2 separate regions of the Homo sapiens genome follow, and region 1 is linked to region 2. The links come from fine-mapping of genetic effects on gene expression. Tissue or cell type: whole blood. Region 2 holds a variant in brackets; the other region holds the start of a gene. All regions are shown on one strand. Distances are between the middles of the regions.

What was found. PIP is the estimated chance that this variant, and not a neighbour inherited with it, causes the effect.
Region 1: it holds the start of BLTP3B, and the variant in region 2 is fine-mapped to the expression of BLTP3B in whole blood (INTERVAL, PIP above 0.99). The same link has a PIP of 0.9 or more in visceral fat.

What each region holds. Positions count from the first base shown.
Region 1 is chr12:100,136,767-100,147,646 of GRCh38, reverse strand. It overlaps BLTP3B (bridge-like lipid transfer protein family member 3B), which reads left to right and starts at 4,773. Exons shown (of 21, transcript NM_015054.2): 1 at 4,773-5,055. The coding sequence starts at 5,012. It overlaps BLTP3B-DT (BLTP3B divergent transcript), which reads right to left and starts at 4,592. Exons shown (of 2, transcript NR_186018.1): 1 at 4,304-4,592; 2 at 2,976-3,107. RefSeq lists enhancers at 244-1,052, 4,465-5,228 and silencers at 4,609-4,788, 5,109-5,358, 8,747-8,896.
Region 2 is chr12:100,117,502-100,128,381 of GRCh38, reverse strand. All of the region lies in intron 1 of BLTP3B (bridge-like lipid transfer protein family member 3B), which reads left to right. Among named protein-coding and RNA genes, the nearest start is that of BLTP3B, 20 kb to the left of the region's middle. The variant A/G (reference allele first, on the strand shown) is at 5,899.

The sequences.
Region 1 (10,880 bases), 19 kb before region 2:
ACTCCATCTCAAAAATATATATATATATTGGTTTGGCCAGGCGCGGTGGCTCACGCCTGTAATCCCAGCACTTTGGGAGGCCGAGGCAGGTAGATCACAAGGTCAGGAGATTGAGACCATCCTAGCCAACATGGTGAAACCCTGTCTCTACTAAAAATACAAAAATTAGCTGGGTGTAGTGGTATGCGCCTGTAGTCCCAGCTACCTAGGAGGCTGAGGCAGAAGAATCGCTTGAACCCAGGAGGCAGAGGTTGCAGTAAGCTGAGATTGCGCCACTGCACTCCAGCCTGGCGACAGAGCAAGACTCCATCTCGAAAAAATGAAATACATTGGTTTGGTCCAGAAGGGCAAGACAAGTCAAAGGAGGGGAGCTTCCAGGCTATAGGTAAATTTAAACATTTTCTGGTTGACAATTGGTTGACTTTGTCTAAAGACCTGGATGATCTGGTTAAGATAAAAGATCGTGGAGACCAAAGTTCTTTTGAAGTCTTAATGTGGCTGCCCTTAGAGACAATAGATGACAAATGTTTCGTATTCAGACCTTTAAAAGGTGATAGACTCTTAGTTAATCTCTTCAGGATTGAGAGGGCCTGTAAGAAAAAAACCTAACTATGTTAATAGAGATTCTTTATAGATGCAAATTTTCCCCCACAAAGAATGGCTTTGCAGGACCATTTCAAAATATGGCAAAGAAACATGTTTTGGGGTAAAATATTTTGACTTTCTCCTTTGTCACTGATAAAACAGGATGAGGTAAAGAAGCTGGCCAAAACCCATCAAAACCAAGATGGTCATGAAAGCAACCTCTGGTCATCCTCACTGCTCATTAAACACTAATTATAATATATTTGCATACTAAAGGAAACTCCCATCAGGGCCATGACAGTTTACAAATGCCATGGTAACATGGAGAAATTACCCTATATGATCTGAAAGGGGGAGGAACTCTCAGTTCCAGGAACTCCCTGCACCCTTACTAGAAAACTCATGAATATGTACCCTTTGTTTAGCATATAATCAAGAAATAACCATAAGTATAGTTGGGCAGCCCATGCTGCTACTCTGCTTATGGCGTAGCTATCCTTTTATTTCTTTACTTTCTTAACAAACTTGGTTTCACTTTACTCTTGTCAGCTTGGTCTTGAATTCTTTCCTGCAGAAGGCAGGAACCCAAGTAGCCTCCCAGCCTGAACCCCAATTTGGGGGTCACCCTACCACAACCAGCATAGCTAAATATCTGCAGAGTTCAGTTTTGATATGGACAGGAGACAGGGAAATACTGGGTAGAACAGAGTGGTTCCCTGGCAAATGCCCTACTCTCAAGCCTGGAAACCCACCGTCCTAAATGGGAACAGGCATTTCTGTTTTTGTGCTCAAAAGTTGCCTTTTGGCCTGCCACAGCACCCTATCTTGTATCCATAGAAAGCCCAAACCCCAGGCTCCACAAGCAGATGAGCAGACAAGGAGATGAACAGATGAGCAGAAGAATGGCAGACCAGTGCAGCAGAGACAAGAGAAGTAGTGACTGAACGCTGAGAAGAGTTTGGCCACTGGATGGCCAAATTCCAGGGGAAGATCATCTTCCCACTCCATCCCCTTTCCAGCTTCCCATCCATCCTGTTGAGAGCCACCTCTACCACTCAATAAAACCCCACATTCACCGTCCTTCAAGTCCCTGTGTGACCTCTTTCTGGATGCCTGACAATGACCTGGATACTAAGAGGGCACTGAGCTAGTTAACACTTAAGCTATCTGTGGACAACAAAGCTAAAAGAGTGCAGTGTAACGCATGCCCACTTGGGCTTCAGGAGTTGCAGTTACCCACCCCTAGACGCTACCATGGGGCCAGAGTTCAAAAGTCCTTGCTCCGGCTTCTGCACTTGCCCATCTGTGTGCTCCCTGTCCTATTAGGGGTTTGCATGTGCTCGGTAGCCAAGCAGATGAGCCACCCCCCTGTGTACTTCGTGCATTAGTGTTAGTCCTGCGAGTGAAGTCAGGGAACCCTCCTGCTTCAGTTTTAAATCCAAGTCTTTGATTTCAGGGTCCATTTTTTTAAAAAAATTAAATGGATTTATTCATATCTTTGAAATAATACCTCTACTATAAGTCTGTCCCCAAATGAATTACTCCTTCCTCTGTGTTCTTATAGCACTTTGCTTGTTTTTGGTAAAGTAATTAATAATACCTAGCCTTTATTGAGTTTGCTATAAGGCAGGTTAACAGTAGCTACTAATAATAATATCTCTTAACACATGAGATCACTGAAGCTGAGAAAGATTAATTTGCTGAAGTTTACACAGTTATAAAGTGGCCAGCATTTGAACCAGAGTCTACTAACAGAGCTGAAGGTGTAAGTAACATGAGTCTGCCTTCCAAGCCAGGCCGTTAACTCTGATGGCAGGAACAGAGATTTTTGTTTTCATTTAGGCAACCCCAGGATACTTGAATAGTGCCTGGTTTATAATCTATGATAAATGTTGAGTGTAGTCAGCTGGGTGTGGTGGCTGATGCCTGTAATCCCAACACTTTGGAAGGCTGAGGCGGGCGGATCACGTGAGGTCAGGAGTTCGAGACCAGCCTGGCCAACATGGTGAAACTCCGTCTCTACTAAAAATACAAAAATTAGCCTGGTAATCCCAGCTACTTGGGAGGCTGAGGCAGGAGAACTGATTGAACCTGGGAGGCGGAGGTCGCAGCGAGCCAAGATCGTGCTGCTGCATTCCAGCCTGAGCGATGGAGTAAGACTGTCTCAAAAATAAAATAAAAATAAAATGAAATGTTGAGTGTAGTCAACTTACACGTCTATCCTTTCCATTCTTCAAAAAGGGCCAGCTTATTGGACTATGTGTAAACTACTTCCCACCCAACTCCCAAGATGTACAACCACACATCTTGCTAATACATCCCTCAGGGGTGGTACAATTTCTTTTCCTGTTTTAGATATCACTAGTGTTAAAAGAAAAACTTCAGCCAAATTAAATTTAAAGGAGTTTAACAATGAACGATTCCTGAGTCTGGCAGCCCCCATAATCACAGCAGATTCAGAGAGACTCCAGCACAGCCACATGCTGGGAGCAGATTTCTGGCCAGCAAAAGGAAAGTGAGGTCTAGAAAATGGAAGTGAGGTACAGAAACAACTGGATTGCTTACAGCTCAGTGTTTGCCTTATTTGAACACAGTCTGAACAGTTGGCTACATCTGGCCAAAACTCAGTGATTGGCACAGGTGTGGGCTATGGTCGGTTTATACCTCTGCTTATTTTCATAAGTTCATGATGTACAGAAAAACCTTTAGGCTGAACTCAATTACGTAAGGAGGCAGTGTTAGGCTAAACTTGACTTAACACTGAGTAATTTTTTTTTTTTTTGAGACAGTCTTGCTCTGTCGCCCAGGCTGGAGTGCAGTGGCTTGATCTCAGCTCACTGCAACATTTGCCTCCCGGGTTCAAGCAATTCTCCTGCCTCAGCCTCCTGAGTAGCTGGGATTACAGGCGCCCGCCACTATGCCCAGCTAATTTTTGTATTTTTTTTTTGTAGACACAGAGTTTCACCATGTTGGTCAGGCTGGTCTTGAACTCCTGACCTCAAGTGATCTGCCTGCCTCGGCCTCCCAAAGTGCTGGGATGACAGAAGTCGTCATTTTAATCTCTGAAAATGTTAGCTCTGTTTGGGATTGGGTGGGGTGGAGGTGTAGAATTGTAACAGTTTTCCCTAGTTCAACAATTTCCTTCCTTCCTTACAGAACTTTTCATATGATATTTACACCTTTAGGTTCAACCTAGTGAAGTGGGTAAGGCTGATGATTAATCTATTTCACAGATGATTAAAATGAAACTAATAGTAAAGAAATTATTTTCCCCAGGATAACACAGCTAGAAAATACCAGAGCCAGGACTTGAATTATACACCTTCTAATTCCTAGGTCCTAGACTACTAGGAACCATTGTCAACCTTTACTTCCCTTAGAATAGCAATAACCAAAGGAAACATTAAATTGCCACATTTAGGTAAGGGAAAGGCAGGACACCTTAACAAAAGAAAAAAAAAAAACACCAAAAACAAAAACCTAAGGAAGAATATGAAGAAAGGTGAGTAGGTCAAGAGAGCAAAGCAAGCACAGGAGTTAATGGCCGATTCTTAAAACATTCTAAGGAGGCCGGGTGCAGTGGCTCACGCCTGTAATGTCAGCACTTTGGGAGGCTAGGAGGGTGGATCACGAGGTGAGAAGTTCGAGACCTACTGGCCAATATGGTGAAACCTCGTCTCTAATAATACAAAAATTAGCCGGCCGTGGTGGTGCGCACCTGTAATCCCAGCTACTCAGGAGGCTGAAGCAGGAGAATCGCTTGAACCCTGGAGGTGGAGGTTGCAATGAGCCGAGATCGTACCACTGGACTCCAGCCTGTGTGACAGAGCAAGACTTGTCTCAAAAAAAAAAACAAACAAGCAAAAAAATAAAAAACATTCTGAGGAAATGAATAAGGGAAGTAGGACGTGGAAGTAAAAATCAGCGACGGGTCAGCGATGGAGGCGGGAACACCAGCAGAGGGAAGGAGGGAGGATTAAGGCCAAGAAGGATGGTGTATTGAGAGTCAAGGGCCCTGTGTCGCGAGGGCTAAGAACCCTGGCGCCAATGCCACAAACCTCCCGCCCCCGCCCAGAGCCCAGCCAGAGCCCAGCCAGAGCCCGCCCAGAGCCCGCCCAGAGCCGGCGTTGGCCCCGCCCCGCCTCGTGCCGGCCCCGCCTGGAGCCGCCCCGCCCCCGCCCTCCACCGAGTCTCTTAGGTGATGCTGCAGCCAAGATGGCGCCCGCGGCGGCCGTGGCGGCCTGAGCGTGATGCTCCGGGTTCTCGGCGGCGGCTGTGGCCTTGGCCGGGGCCTTGGGTCTCTCCCGGTCGTGAGCGATCAGCGCCTCTCCGCCGGCCGGGCTAGCCGGGACAGAGAGGAGACGGCCACGAAGAGAGGAGGCAGTGAGCAACAGGACGAGACCGCGGCGTCTCCAGCCTCGGTACCATGGCCGGGATCATCAAGAAACAAATCTTGAAGCACCTCTCCAGGTCAGTGAGCGCCTCGGTGTCGGCGCCAGTCGGCCTCCACCCCAGCCCGCACTGGAGTCAGCCTGCGGCTTCGGGGGCGGCGGCGCCTGGCGGCTGTGCGGGAGGCGACCTTCGGACTTCCCCGCTCTGGCCGGGGCAGAGGTCGCGGCCCCGGATCTCTTGTCGCCGGCGGCGCCGGGGGCTGGCCTCACGAATCGGCCCCTGACGCGTCTTCTCCCAGGGTGGGCGCGCGGAGGAGCCCGGAGTGCGGAGCGCGGCGGGCTGGGATCGCTCCCGGCGCGGCGTCTGGGGGCGTCCCGGCTCGGCTCTGTGCGGTACTGAGCGGAGGCTGGAGGTGGCCTGGCGTCACCCAAGTGCCTGGTTAATGTGCTGGGCTCTAACTCGAGTTCGGTGCTCCTTCCCCTTGGAGCAGAGCGGTTCCGTTAACCGAGGGCTTCTGGCGCAGTGTGGACGCTCAGTGGAGGCTGTGTTCTCAGTGGAACGTTAACCTTGTGATTGTTCTGAATTCCTCCCACCTTGGCGTTCCCGCTCTGTGGCATCAGAGGGTGTGCCTGTTTGCACAGTTAGGATTTGTTTTAGGTAAATAAGCAGAGTTCGCAGCTTTGGCAGGTTCTTTCTGGAGTCCTATGAGACCCACATCATTATTACTGAACATTTTTTTTTTTTGGTTTTTGCTCTTTTTCCTCTGCAACTCTAAAATTCAGGGAGTTAACATCTGTGGTGATTAAACCCAAGACATGTCATTCTCTCCATTTCATAACGCGGTTTTAGTCAGAAACATGACTCAGTAAGGCTGGCAGTTTGTTACTGCTCTTGGCTTCTCCGTGTTTGTCTCAAGACACAGGCTAAATGTAGGCTCTTGTTCCAAGTTGTTACCAGCGAACTCAAAGCCCTTGGTTAGGATCCCTTTCTGTTCGATTTGTAAGTTAATTTTAACTAATTTTGGGAAGACACGGGTATGATTATAGACTTGTATAGTAAACATAATTCTTGATTCCCCAGATTGTCTTATACCACAGGTTATATATTGGGAACAGAATTCTACTTCTGTGATTCAGCAAATATTTTCCTCACTTATAATACTGAATAAGATATAGCACTTTTCTTAAAAGTAGCAAAGTATAGCAGCGTGTGTGTGTGTGTGTACATATATATACATATGTACATATATACATATACATATATACACATATATACACATACATATATATGTGTACTACATATATATGTGTATACACTACACATATATATGTGTATATATGTAGTATTTTTTTAGTAGAGACTGGGTTTCACCAGGCCAGGCTGGTCTTGAACTCCCAACCTCAGGTGATCCGCGGTCCTCGGCCTCCCAGAGTGCTGGGATTACAGGTGTGAGCCCCCACGCCCTGCATGAATATGTATTTCTTAATGTTATCACTCATTGAAAAGTTTCTTTTAAAATTATATATATGGCCCAATCTTGAACTATCTTATTTTGGAAGGTTTTATCTATTTTTAATTTATGTCCTCCCGCCTTTCTCATACCCAGCTCCACAAGAAAATACAGATCTGCAGAAAATGATTTGAATGCCTACTTTCTCACTCGTCCAAGGATGATGCTGCATAGCTAGTACCACTCTAGATGCTTGGAAGAAAAGTTAATTCAATCAACAGATAGTGCATTAGAGTTTAATTCTTTTATAGAACTCCATTTGAGAGGGGCTCTTAAAAATTAAGAGCATGCATACCAAAGTATAATAAAAAAAATTAAGAACAAAGATGTAATGGCTTACTGCATGAGATAGAAAACACCCATATATTGAAAATTGAGTCTTTAGGGCTAGTTTTTATTTTATTTTATATATATATATATATATATATATTTTTTTTTTTTTTTTTTTTTTTTTTGAGACAGAGTCTCACTCTGTTTCCCAGACTGGAGTGCAATGGCATGATCTCGGCTCACGGCAGCCTCTGCCTCCTGGCTTCAATCAGTTCTCCTGCCTCAGCCTCCCGAGTAGCTGGGATTACAGGCATGCGCCACCACGCCTGGCTAATTTTGTATTTTTAGTAGAGACAGGGTTTTTCCATGGTGGTTAGGCTGGTCTCAAACTCCCAACCTCAGGTGATCCGCCTGCCTTGGCCTCCCAAAGTGCTGGGATTACAGGTGTGAGCCACCGTGCCTGGCCCTTAGGGTTAGTTTCTAAATCTGTATGATTTGTAATAGCTGTGTGATAAATAGTGTGATGAGGATTTTTTTTTTTTTCAGAGATGAGTTTTTGGGACACTTGAGTTTTCAGTTATTTCATATTTCAAAACATCCTTAACTCAGGTGACTAAAGAGTATCAAATTTTTATTTTTGGTTAATAAGTTAATCTTACTGCTAATTGCTGTCATCTCCTAAGAAAAATAGTTATTCAGAAATCTAAAGGCAGCTCGTAATTGACAAAAGAAGGCAGGTGTTGTGATAAATTATAGTTACTCAGGAAGGAATGAACTTTTGAAATTACCTGGTTCAAGTTTAATTTTATAGAATATCCAGTAATGAAGATGTCACTACATTGACCTAGTGGTCTGGGATACAGTAGAATATAGTTTACCAGGAAATAGTTGAACATACTAGTTTCTAATACTAGACATCATGTGAGGCCTGTGTATGCAACCCATTGCACCTTCTCAAAGGTGACCTTTCCTGACCACAGAGTTTAAAATTGTGAGCCCCCATATTGCCAGTCCTCTTGCTTGCATTATTTTTCTCCATAGCACTCATGCTTGTCTGTCGTACATATTTATTTCTTTATGTATTTTTGTCTTTCTCCACTTAAATGTAGACTCTATGAGAGCAGGGATTTTTGTCTTGAGGCTGGCATAAAGTAGGTACTCAACAACTATTTGTTGCATGAATGTGGATACATAACATGAATGAGCTTACTTTCTCTTACATTGCTTTTTTTTACTGAGGCAAGACTACTGCCAATATTCTTATAGATTTGGGAATGACCAGTTTCCCTGTGGCTTTAGGAGGCAGTGAGTAATTGAATCATTAAATAAATGTGGTGCCTTTGGATCCTGGAAAATAACTAGGAAAATGACCTAGTTCTTACAGGGGTTTATATGAGGGGTCTTCCGGTAAGGAAATAACCCAGTTATTGTATGGGGGGAGGAGTTCTGCCAGTAAGGAGGAAGACTGTGAACCAACATGAGAAAGAGCTCTCATTTTTAGCCTTGAGGTTGAAATATAGTGCAGTTGCAAGATTAAAACCATCTTTGCCTGGATGAAGGGACTTGAGAAGCTGGTATGTTGGGAAAGTATGGAAGAGGAATTGTTCTTAAGAGATTAACAGATTCTTTAACTCAATGCTAAACTATTTGAGAACTGTAAATCTATATACTTGTTCCTTGCCTAATTGTTAGTTTGTATTCCAAACATCTCTCCAGTTGTTAATAAAAAGTTTATCTACTTGAAGAATCTGAAATGAGGACAAGGAGGTGTGTTGGTGGGATGGGGGAGCTTAGAGTAGTGACATTTTTCCAGAGTGAAACAGGAAAAGCTTTTGAAGGAGAAACTGCCCCGATTTTTCAAACTGTAATAGGACTGAATGTATTTTGGGAGGGTTTTCTAGGAGAGTAGTTTTTCACATGGGAATGGAAACTTCTAAAGAGAAGTCGTAACAAATGTGAGAAAGGAAATAAAAGCAGAAGCTACCTTTCAGCTCAAGACATTAGTGTGTGTGTGTGTGTGTGTATGTGTATGTGTATACACATGTACACACCTGTGAACAGGCGCTTGCAAATCGGCAAAGTGGACGTATATTTAATTAAGCCAGGACCTGAAAAGGGGTAGGGAAGTTTTGGATACAGACACTCTCTTCTCCTTCGCTCCCTTAGGCTAAGGGCATACTGTGCTCTGCACAAGGTTTCCTGGGAGTGGGAGTTGACTGGGCAGACATTCACCTCACCTCGGTGGAGTCATCGTATAGTTTAAAGCAGCAGTTGTCAACCAGGGTCAGTTTGTCTTGAGGTGACATTTGGCAGTGTCTGGAGATATTTTTAATTGTCAAGACTTGGAGGGGAGGGTAATACTACTGCCATCTAGTGAATAGAGGCCAGGGATGCTGCTAGACGTTCTACATTGCACAGCATATTCCCTCACAACAAATAATTATTTGCCCAAATGTCAGTAGTTCCGAGATTGAGAAACCAGCTTAAAGTGTACAGGTGTGTGTCGTATGATTGAGCTAGGGTTCTGTGCTAGTAAAGTTGTTTTGCCTGCAAACATCAGAAAGCTGATCTATTTAAGTAAAAAGGGAAATGTAACAGAAAGCAGAAGAATATCTGAACAACCAAATCAAGGAAAGAACAGGAACCAGCTAGCTCCTAGAATCTCATTGGAAGAGTTCTTGGACCTTCCTCTTAAAGTAGCAGCAGGGTTTTTTAACCTTGGCATCATTGGCATTTTGAAATAGATAGTTCTTTGTTGTGAAGGCTGTTCTGTGCATTGTAGGATGTTTAATGTCTCCAGACATTGCCAAATGTCTCATAGGAGGCAAAATTACTCCTGGTTGGGAGCTACAGCTTTAGAGTGCTGGCCTATCTTCCATAATTCCCAGTCTTTGATCTCTCCTGTCAGGTTTCAGAATCCCCTAGAGAGAAAGCCTTTGTGACCCAGTTTTGTCTACCCATGGTTCAATTAGCAATGGCAAAGGGTTGTACAGCAAAAATATGGTAATGGAGAGGGCTATTTTGAGTTAGGCTTGTTGCTCCATTAGTCATCTGTAATAGGCAGTGCACTAAATTAGATTTCCAAGGGCCTCATTTGCTACATTAAGGAAATTGAACTTTATCCTGGGGGTGAGGAGTGACTACTAATAAAGGTAAGAGGGATATGCTCATTAAAGCAGTCTTATTTTTGAAGTCTAGGGTTTAGGAGCAATATCTGGGGTGGAAATACGGAGTCTACAAATGGACTCTGAGTAACTTAAGTAGAAAATGGGGCCAGGTGTGGTGGCTCATGCCTGTAATCCAAGCACTTTGGGAGGCCAAGTCAGGCAGATCACTTGAGCCCAGCAGTTTGAGATCAGTCTGGGAAACATGATGAAAACTCTGTCTCTACCCCAAATACAAAAATTAGCCAGTCTCATAACCTGGTCTCAAAAAAGAAAAAAAGAATATTCATTATGGACATTCAGAAGGGTTAAACACATGCAGGATTTGGTGCCTGAATGGCAAAGTGATGAGAGGGATTAGAGTGCCTCACTTTGTGTTGATGGGATTGGCCACTAGATTGAGGATATATAAGGAAGGGGAGGAGAGGGCGGTAGCTGATAGCCTGGAGAGAAAAGGAAAGAACCGTCAAAGGATTGGGAATGCTATCTAGGTGGAAAAGTAATGGAGTAAAGGAATGAGATAATTGGAAGGGTTGGAGATTTTGTCTGAAACTGTCACATTGAAGTTTAAGATTTTAGAAGTGAAGTAGATCTGGTTTAGGAAAAGCTATCTGAGGCTGGGCGCCGTGGCTTATGCCTATAATCCTACCACTTTGGGAGGCTGAGGCGGGTGGATCACCTGAGGTCGGGAGTTCGAGACCAGTCTGACCAACACGGTGAAACCCTGTCTCTACTAAAAATGCAAAATTAGCTGGGTGTGGTGGCCCATGCCTGTAATCCCAGCTACTCGGGAGGCTGAGACAGGAGAATTGCTTGAGCCCGGGAGGTGGAAGTTGCAGTGAGCTGAGATCGGGCCATTGCACTCCAGCCTGGGCAACAAGAGCGAAACTCCATCTCAAAAAAAATAAAAAAAAAGAAAAAAAAGAAAAGAAAAGCTATCTGATATGGCCATAGAAGTG
Region 2 (10,880 bases):
TCTCGCCCTGTAGTCAGTGTCTTTTCTAATAGATAAGGTTTGGCAACATACTTAAAGTTATAACCATCTCTTCCTGATGTTGCAAGAGAGTTTTGTAACTTCCTGCCAGCTGTTTGGAAATAGTAGTTAGCATTTGATCTACTTTTAAATGAATGGGTAAGGCTTCTTAGTCTAATGTAATTAGTGAGGTACAAAGTCTCCTTTGATAAAGAGGCTGTTTTGAATAATTCATTCATCATTGAGGGATTTAAGAATTTATTTTGTGTATTTAATGATAGTTATCTTTATCAAAGAGATTGAAATAAGTCTCACAAACAGCAGTGCAAATGGGATTCTTTTTTTGTTTTTTGAAGTGGTAGGGGTGGTGGGGGGAAAAGGTGTTGCTCTGTTGCCCAGGCTAGAGTGCAGTAGTGCAGTCACAGCTCATTATAACCTCAAACTCCTGGTCCCCAGTTATCCTCCTGCTTCAGCCACCAGAGTAGCTGGGACTACAGGCATGTACCCCATGCCTGGCTGAGTTTTTAAATTTTTATAGAGATGAAGTCTCACTATGTTGCCCAGGCTGGTCTCAGAGCTCCTGGGCTCAAGCAGTCCCCCCACCTAGGCCTCCCAAAGTGCTAGGATTACAGGTATGCACCAGCATGCTCTGCCAGGATTCATTTTTGAAGAATTTAAGGGTTTTACAGCATTCTCTTCTACCCTCTCCTGTCTTTTTAAAAATTTCATTATCAGGGAAAGCAATTATGTTATAAAACCAGGTTATTGGAAATGGTGCTGAATTTCTTTCAATTTAGGACTCAATGAAAAACCTAGAAACTCATATCACTGAATACTTCTAATTCTTGGGAAATTTATCCACATAAATACTTTGAACTTCCAAAAGTCTTGTAATAAATTGTTAATTAAATGCCACAAGTAGAATTGTGCAACTTATTACATACTTACCTAAGAGTAATGGACAAATGAGAAACTTATTGGCTATATGCTAAAGCAATTGTATAGGCCTAGTGGCCTAAATATTGTTTTACGTTCTTGCCTGCATTGATTCCATGCTTTCATTTGGGAACCTGGATCTCAAACAGAATTGCCAAGGGAAAGGTGCCAAGCTTTAACCTCAGGTGGAAACCTTTGAGATTCACTTTAGTATATTAATAGTTAAGGTCTTTTATTGTTTAAAATGGCTTTCAAGGATGGTTCTGATTTTGTGTATACCTCTAGCAAATCCTCTGAGACGCTTGCTCGTGAAGTATAATCACAAGTGTAGCCCTTTGTTTTTTCTAGATTATACCTCCTTAAAACATATCTTTTTTTTTTTTTGGCCTGGTTTATGCTTAGCTTATTCAAGGTGAAGTGTTATGATTGTATTCCAAGTTTTAACCACAGCTATCCATGTGTTTATTCAAATCACCTACCAAGATTCATTCCTTTTTCTTCTTTACCTTCCTGTTTTAATCAGTCATGATTACTTTATATTGAAATAACTATTGAACTTATCTTCTTTATCCTAAACCTAGGACATAGCAGGCTGCTTGGAATAAAGTAGATATCAGTAAGATTTGAATATCTCTCATCACCAGATTTCATTAATTATTTATTGCATCAGTTGTTGCAACTAAACACTGAGTATTTTCATCTCCTTTGGGTCTCATACTTCTGTATTCCATCCTTGGCGCTGTTAAGAGAAAGATGTTTCCAAAATGCTAATCTTAACATTTAATTTCTTGCTAAAAATCTTTTAATGGCTCCTGTTTAAGCTTTTTTTTTAATAAAAAATTTTGTTTATAACAGTAGAATTTTTGTGCCCAAAGAGATTTTAAAAGAGAACTTTACTACATAAAGTAGACAAAAGTAGAGCTCCTCTAGTTGAGTCAGTAATTGGATGGTGGGTGGTGGTGGTTCCTTTGGCATATTCTTTCTTTTTTTTTTTCTCCTCTCACTTGAGTTGAACCATGAGCAGTCTTCTTAGGGGCACTGTGGGAAAAACATTGATGTGTAGGTTAAAACCCATATTCGTTGGCTTGGAAAACAAGAGTCCTTCATGATCTGGCTTCAGTTGGCTTCTCAAGGAATATTGTTTCTTTCCAAACTACCTGAGGCCTTATCTTACATCTGTGTCTACTGTGTGACCCTGTAATCTTGAACGTGCTGCTGCTGCCGCCTCTGAAATGTCCTTCTCTCTGCCTTATTCACTTGACAAAAACTTACTGTTTAAAAACGTAGCTTGAGTGCTGCCTACTTTTATGAAGCCTTCCCAAAGTCTTCTTTACTATTTTCTTTATTTTAATAGATAGCCTTACTCTTTTGCCCAGGCTGTTCTCAAACCCCTGGGCTCAAGTCATCCTCCCACCTCAGCCTCCCAAAGTGTTGGGATTACAGGCGTGAGCCACTGCACCTGGATATCTACTTTACTGTTAAGAGAATTGATCATCACCCTTTTCCTTGTGATTCCATTTTATCCTGTTGCCATTTTTATTGTATGACCTATCACATAGTACCCAGCACATAGTAAGATCATAACATATTGCAATGATTTATTTATATGCTTGCTTCTAATAATAAAATGTGAAGTTCTTGAAAAACAGTAACTATTTCTTATTTGTTTAAATTTCCCAAGAGCCTAATGAGTGACTGGCAAATAGTAGGCACTCAGTTTTTGCTATGAAGGATATATGTCTAGTTGTGTCAGATCTTCTGATATTTCAATAAAATCTGGATGCCCATATTTTCTGCCCTGCCCTGCTCCCCTCACTCTGTTGCCCATGCTGGAGTGCTATGGCGTGATCACAGCTCACTGCAGCCTTGACCTCCCAGGCGTAAGTGATCCTTCTGCCTTACCCTCCCAAGTAGTTGAGACCACAGGTACACCACCATGCTCGGCTAATGTTTTATTTTTTCTAGAGATGGGGTCTCCCTATGTTTCCCAGACTGGTCTCAAACTCTTGCCCTCAGGTAATCCTCCTGCCTTGGGCCTCCCAAAGTGTTGAGATTGTAGTCGTTAGCCACCATACCCAGCCTGATGCCCAGATTTTTTTTTTTTTTTTTTTTTGAGATGGAAACCGGTCGCTCTGTCACCCAGGCTGGAGTGCAGTGGCGCAATCTTGGCTCACTGTAGCCTCTGCCTCCCGGGTTCTAGCGATTCTCCTGCTTCAGCCTCCCTGAGTAGCTGGAATTACAGGCGTGTGCCTCCATGTCTGGCTAATTTTTGTATTTTTAGTAGAGACGGGGTTTCACCATGTTGGCCGGGCTTATCTGGAACTCCTGACCTCGGATGATCCGCCCATCTCGGCCTCCCAGAGTGCTGGGATTACAGGCGTGAGCCACTGTGCCCGGCCTCAATGCCCAGATTTTAATGTAAGGTCTACCCATATATATATATATATGGACCTTAATAAATAAATATAAATATATATATATATATATATATATATATATATATATATATATAAAATTTTTTTTTTTTAAGGCAGGGTCTCACTCTGTCACCCAGGTGGGAGTATAGTGGTGTGATCATAACTCAATGCAACTTTTAACTCCTGGGATCAAACGATCCTTCTGCCTCAGCCTTCCAAGTGGCTAGGACTACAGGTGTGTGCCACCATGCCCAGCTAATTTTTATTTTTATTATTATTATTTTTTGAGATGGAGTCTCACTCTGTTTCTCAGGCTAGAGTGCAGTGGAGCAATCTTGGCTCACTGCAACCTCTGCCTCCTGGGTTAAAGTGATTCTCCTGTGTTAGCCTCCTTGAATAGCTGGGATTACAGGCGCGTGCCATCACGCCCAGCTAATTTTTTTGTGTTTTTAGTAGAGATGGGGTTTCACAATGTTGGTCAGGCTGGTCTCGAACTCCTGAGCTCGTGATCTACCCTCCTCAGCCTCCCAGAGTGCTGGGATCACAGGCGTGAGCCACCATGCCTAGCTAATTTTTATTTTTTTTAATATTTTGTAGAGACAGGATCTCTGTGTTGCCCAGGCTGGTCTCAAACTCCTGGTGTCAAGCAGTCCTCCTTGCCTCAGCCTCCCTTAGTGCTGGGATTACAGGCGTGAGCCACTGTGCCCTGCCTAGGTCTACCCATTTTTAATGGTTTTTATTTATTTATTTGAGAGACAAGGTCTCACTCTCTCTCCCAGACTGGAGTGCATGGTGTTATCATAGTGCACACTTAAATGCAGCCTCAAACTTCTTGGCTCAAGTGATCCTCCTGTCTCAGCCTCTGAAGTAGCTAGGTCTACAGGCATGCACCACCATGCTTGGCTAATTAAAAAAAAAAAAAAAATTCTCGTAGAGATGGGGTCTTGCTATGTTTCCCAGGCTGATCTTGAACTCCTAGCTTCAAGCAGTCTTTCTGTCTTCGGCCTTCCAAAGTGTTGTGGGTACAGGCATGAGCCACAATGCCTATCCTATTTTAAAGGTTAACAACAAATTGAGATTTTTAAAAACACTGTGTGGGCCAAATAGTATCTGTGGGCAGACAGCTCACAGGCTGCCAGTTTGCATTCTTTCATTCTTTAAATGTTTATTTGGAAAAACTGGTTATATGAGATTGATTTTTTTTCATTACACGCATAATTACAAAAATAACCAAGCCAGACAAACTCTGTGTAAATTGAGAATGCATTTAAAAAAAAAAAGGCAGTTTAAACCATTGGGAGCATACTTTGATTCTTGTTCCATTAATATTTTAGGTTTTAGTTTAAAAAATTTATGCCTTGACGTTAATCAAACTCAAAGAGCCTGTCCGTCAGAAGTTCTGGAGGCCCAGACTTGCAATGGGTTTGGTGGGCAAGGACTGGGGTGACGGAGGGCAGTCTTGGGACTGAGCCCTCAGCCTGTGGGATTTGGGATCTGATACCATCTCCAGATAGACAGTGTCTGAACTGAATTAGAGGGCACACAGCTGGTGTCCACTGCTTGGTGTGTGGGGGAGAAAACTCCACGCACACGGTCACAGAATTTTTCTGTGTTGATGATTATTGTTGTGTGAGCAGAGGAAAAACATCGTTAGAGAGTTTCCCTATACACTACAACACTCAGTTCCTTCTAAAATACCATTTTTTTAAATTGTTTTTGGCTCTGTCTGCCCTGACTATAGTAAGCCCTATAGGGCAAAGATCTTTGTCTGTCTGTTCTCTCATACATCCCAAGCACCCAGATTGGTGTCTGCCACATAGTAGGTCCTCAGTTAATATTTGTTGAATGTACAATACCTTTAATCTCTCAGACACTCTGCTAGGGACTGAGGACAAGATCCCTGCTCTCTTGGAGCTGATCTTCTAGTTGGGGAGAGGCAAACATGTAAGAAGGCAAGTAATTGCAAATTCTAATAGACCAGGAAGATCAAAGTGGATGAAGCGAGCAGAGCATGGGATGGGAGGAGAGAGGAGAGAAGCTGCTCTGAAGGGGTGATGAATTAGGGTAAACCTAAGAGATGAGAAGGATGAGAGGGTGAAAAGCATGCCAGGCACAGGGAGCTGCATGTCCAACTGTTCTCAGGGGAGAAAGTTTGGCCTTCTCTAGGAACAGACGGAGAGAAGGCAAGGGATCCTAAGGGAGATGGTGCAAGGGCTTTTGGGGAGTTTGGGGTTTATCCAAAATGTAGTAGAGAAGAGGGTTCTTGAAGAGTTTTCAGCAGGGATGGGACATGTGGGATTTGTGTAAAGCAGGGAGCAAACTATGGCTCAAGGGCCTGCTTTGGCTCACTGCCTGTTTTTGGAAACAAAGTTTTATTGGATCACAGACACACCATTAGTTTTCTTAGGAGCTACAAAGGCAGAATTTATGAAAAAAGAAAATGTTTATGCCTGGAATATATGCTAAGTCTTACAAATTTACACTGAAAGCTCCTTGAGGGTAAGAGTTGCCATATATTGCTACAATGCCTAGTAAATGCTCAGTAAAT[A/G]TGGTTGAACTGAAAATTTATCAGTATGATAATGGAATGGTAACTGATCCTAAAATACCTCTTAAACTAAAATTGTACAGGTTTGATTATAGTCTGGGCTCTACTTTAGTGTGACCTTCAGCATTTGACTTAACCTCTCTAGGCTTCATATTCTCTACTATAAAATGAGGAGGTTGGATTAAATTATTTGATATTCTTTGTAGTATGAGGACTGCCTATGGCTCCACTTTTTTAAGCTTAAAATTGCTTCTAATATCTCCATTGGATGGCAGATGCAATGGGGTGGTTTTCAAAAGGCCATGGTTCTAATACCTTATATATTTTTATTCCATTGTATTTTATTAATAGTTAACAAGTTCATTTATTTTATTTTATTATTTGAGATGGAGTCTCACTGTGTTGCTCAGGCTGGTCTGGAACTCCTGGGCTTAAGTAATCCCACCTTAGCCTCCTGAGTATCTGGGATTACAAGCAGGCACCACCATGCCTGGCTAAATTCATTATTTTTTAAGATATTTATATATACACATATATGTGTGTGTATATATATAGTATGTATATATCTTATTTGAACAGCTTTATTAAAATATAACTGATTTATAGGCAATACACTGCACATATTTAAGGTGTACAATTTGATGACTTTTTTTTCTTGAGACGGACTTTCGCTCTTGTTGCCCAGGCTGGAGTGCAGTGGCACGATCTCAGCTCACCGCAGCCTCCGCCTTCTGGGTTCAAGCAATTCTCCTGCCTCAGCTTCCCAAGTAGCTGGGCTTATAGGCGGGCGCCACCACGCCCGCTAATTTTGTACTTTTAGTAGAGACAGGGTTTCACCATGTTGGTCAGACTGGTCTCAAACTCCCGACCTCAGGTGATCCGCCCTCCTTGGCCTCCCAAAGTGTTGGGATTACAAGCTTGAGCCACCATGCCTGGCCTGATGAAATTTTAACATATATGTAATCATAATACCATTACCATAATTAAGAAAATGAATATTCACCACCCTCAAAAGTTTCCTCATGCTCCTTTGTAATCCTCTCTCTCCTTCTGCCTCATTCCTGGGCAACCACTGATCTACTTTATATCACTTAGGTTAGTTTGCATTTTCTGTTTTTTTTTTTTTTTTTTTCCATGAGATGGAGTTTCACTCTTGTTGCCCAGGCTGGAATGCAGTGGCACTATCTCAGCTCACTGCAACCTCCACCTCCCAGGTTCAAGTAATTTTCCTGCCTCACCCTCCCGAGTAGCTGGGATTACAGGCATGTGCTACCACACCCCACTAAAAATTCTGTATTTTTAGTAGAGGCAGGGTTCCTCCATGTTGGTCAGGCTGGTCTCAAACTCCTGACCTCAGGTGATCCGCCCACCTCGACCTCCCAAAGTGCTGGGATTACAGGCGTGTGCCACTGTGCCCGGCCTAGTTTGCATTTTCTAGATTTTTATATAAATATGCATTTTTTCCTGGCTTCTTTCACTCAGCATTATTATCTTGCAATTAATCTATTTTATCGTATGTGTACATTCTTATTGCTGATTATTCTATTGTGGATATACCACAATTTATCCGTTTACCTTTTGATAGATATTTGGGTTGTGTCCGTTTGTCAGCTATTAGAAATAAAGCTATTATGAACATTCGTGTATAAATCTTCGTGAGGACATAGGCCTTTCTCTCTCTCTCTCTCTCTCTTACATAATTGTATGTGCTATGTTTTCATATGAAGGTCCTAAGCTTTTCATTCCTTTTAAGTAAATTCTTAGTAGTAGAATGGTTAGGTATATGCTAGGTATATGCATCACTTTAAAAACAAATTCCAAACAGCTTTCCAAAGTGGTTTCAACTTGTTCATTTTACATTCTCACAAATACGTATATGAGAGTTCCAGTTGCTCCATATCTTCACCAATACTCAGTATAGTTAGCCTTTTTAATTTTAGCTATTTTAGTGGATAAGTAGTGGTATCTTACTGTGGTTTTTAATTTGCAGTTTTCTAATGACTAATGTTGGGCATCTTTTCAAGTGCCTATCTGCCATCTGTGTCTTCTTTGGTTCCAAGGTCCCTTTAAATCTTTTGCCTATTTTATTTTTTATTTTTATTTTTTTCTTTTTTGAGATGGAATCTTGCTCTGTCACCCAGGTTGGAGTGCAGTGGTGCGATCTTGGCTCACTGAAACCTCCACCTCCTAGGTTCAAGCAATTCTGCCTCAGCCTCCCGAGTAGCTGGGATTACAGGCGCCTGTCTCACGCTCAGCTAATTTTTGTATTTTTAGTAGAAATGAGGTTTTGCCATTTTGGCCATGCTGGTCTCAAACTCCTTATCTCAGGTGATCCGCCCGCCTAGGCCTCCCGAAGTGCTGGGATTACAGGCGTGAGGCACCACGCCCAGGCCTTTTGCCTGTTAGTGAATTGTCTTACTTTCAAGTTGTAAGAATTTAAAAAAAATTGTAGGTACAAGTCTTTTTTCAAATATATGCTTTGGAAATATTTTTTCCCAGTCTATGGTTGCCCTGTAGTTACAGTGTCTTTCAAAGGGCAGAGGTTTTAATTTTGATCCACTAACTTATTTTTTTCTCCTATGATTTGTGCATTTTTTGTTGCGTTAAATCTACCAAACTCAAGGTTACTAATATTTTCTTCAGGAGTTTTTAAGTTGTAGTTCTTAGATTTAGGTCTGTGATAATTTAGAGTTAATTTTTGTTTATGGGGTGAGGTAAAGGTCAAGGATTTTTTTGTTTTTTGTTTTTTTTGCATATGGCTGTAACATCATTCTGGTACCACTTCTTAAAAATATTATTTTCATTGACTTGTTTTTGCACCTTTGTTGGAAATTAGCTAACCATGAATTTGGGTCTTTTTCTGGACTCTGTATTTTGTTGCATTTATTATTTATTTACACCCACCATTATCAGACTGCCTCGATTACTGTAGCTTTTAGATAAGTCTTGAAATTGGCAGTATAATGTTTCCAACTTTGTTCATCTTTTTCAGAGTTATTTTGGATATTCTAGGTCTTCTACATTTTCATGAAAATTTTAGAATCAGTATGTCATTTCTCTCAAAAAAGAAGCCTGCTTGGGTTTTGCTTAGGGTTGCCTTGAATCTGTAAGTCTTTTTGAGAGAATTGATGACATTTTAACAGTATTGAGTTTAATCCACTAATATGTTTTATTTCTTCATTTATTTAGATCTTCTTCAATTTCTTGCAACAGTATTTTGTAGTTTTCAGTTTCTAGGTCTTGCACACCTTTTGACAAATTTATCCCTAAAAATTTCATATTTCTTATGCTAATGTTAATGGTAGTTTAAAATATTCAGTTTCTGATTGTTGCTACATATAGAAACATAATTTATTTATTTATTTTTTTATTTTATTTCATTTTTGAGACAGAGTCTGGCTCTGTCGCCCAGGCTGGAGTGCAGTGGCGCGATCTCGGCTCACTGCAACCTCCGCCTCCTGAGTTCAAGCAATTCTCCTGCCTCAGCCTCCCGAGTAGCTGGGACTACAGGTGCATGCCACTAAGCCCAGCTAATTTTTGTATTTTTAGTAAAGACAGAGTTTTACCATGTTGGCCAGGCTGGTCTTTGAACTCCTGACGTTGTGATCTGCTCGCCTTGGCCTCCCACAGTGCTGGAGTTACAGGCATGAACCGCAACACCCAGCTGATTTCTTTATTATAATTTTTATTGAGTGAAATTTACATACAATAAAATGAATAAACTTTCCATAATCAGCTCTGATTTTTTAAAAATAAGCTTTTAATCTTAGAATAGTTATGGATTTATAGAAAGGTTGTGAAGATAATGCAGAATTCTCATACCCAACATTTAGTCTCTCTTACTATTAGCATTTTACATTCATATGGTTCATCACAATTAACTAATGTTGATAATTATTATAGGCCATACTCTGTTCAAATTTCCTTAGTATTTCTTTTACCCAATGTCCTTTTTCTATTCCATGGTCCCATTCCAAATATATTACATTTAGTCATCATGTCTTTTTAGGCTCCTCTTGGTTGTGCCCATTTCTCAGACGTTCCTTGTTTTTGAAGACCTTGAGAGTTTTTTGTTTTGTTTTGTTTTGTTTTGTTTTGAGACGGTCTCACTCACTCTCCCAGACTGGAGTGCAGTAGTGTGATTATGACTCACTGCAGCCTCAACCTCCTGGGCTTAAGCAGTCCTCCTGCCTCAGCCTCCTGAGTAGCTAGAACTACAGGCATGCACCACTACACCTGGCTAATATTTTATTTTTTTGGAGAGGCATAAGCCACCGTGCCCAGCCAACCTTGAAAGTTTTGAGGAGACCTGGCCACGTGTTTTGTACAGTGTCCTTCAATTGGGGTTTGTCTGCTGTTTTCCTTTAAAAAAAATACAAAAATTTATATAAAATTACTCATTTTTTTTTCTGGGACCAAGAGAAATGCCAATTTCAACTGTGTCAAGATATCTTTGGTTGCTCTATAAAATCGATACACATAAGTCCAGGATTGATAAGAGTAGTATAAAAAAGGCATTCTTTGTATCTCCTCCACGATAAATCTGTGATTTTAAATCTGATGCATATAAATGAGTCCCCCAGATAACTTCCTAAAATGGAGATTTCTAGGCCCTGCTCCATATCAAGAGCACCAGAATCTCTGGGAATGGGCTTGAAATGGAGTAGTTTTAAAAAGCACCCCAAAGGTCAGGTGCGGTGGCTCATGCCTGTAATCCCAGCACTTTGGGAGGCCACAGCAGGAGGATTGCTTGAGCCCAGGAGTTTGAGACCAGCCTGGGCAACACAGCGAGACCCCATCTCTACAAAAAAATTAAAAATGAGCTGGACGTGGTGGTGCTGGGCATGTTGAGGAGGTCAAGGTGGAGGCAGGGGAGGTGGAGGCAGGGGAGGATCTTAGGAGGTCGAGGCAGGGGAGGATCACTTGAGCCCAGGAGTTCAAGGCTGCAGTGAGCTGTGATCACACCACTGCCCTCCAGCCTGGGC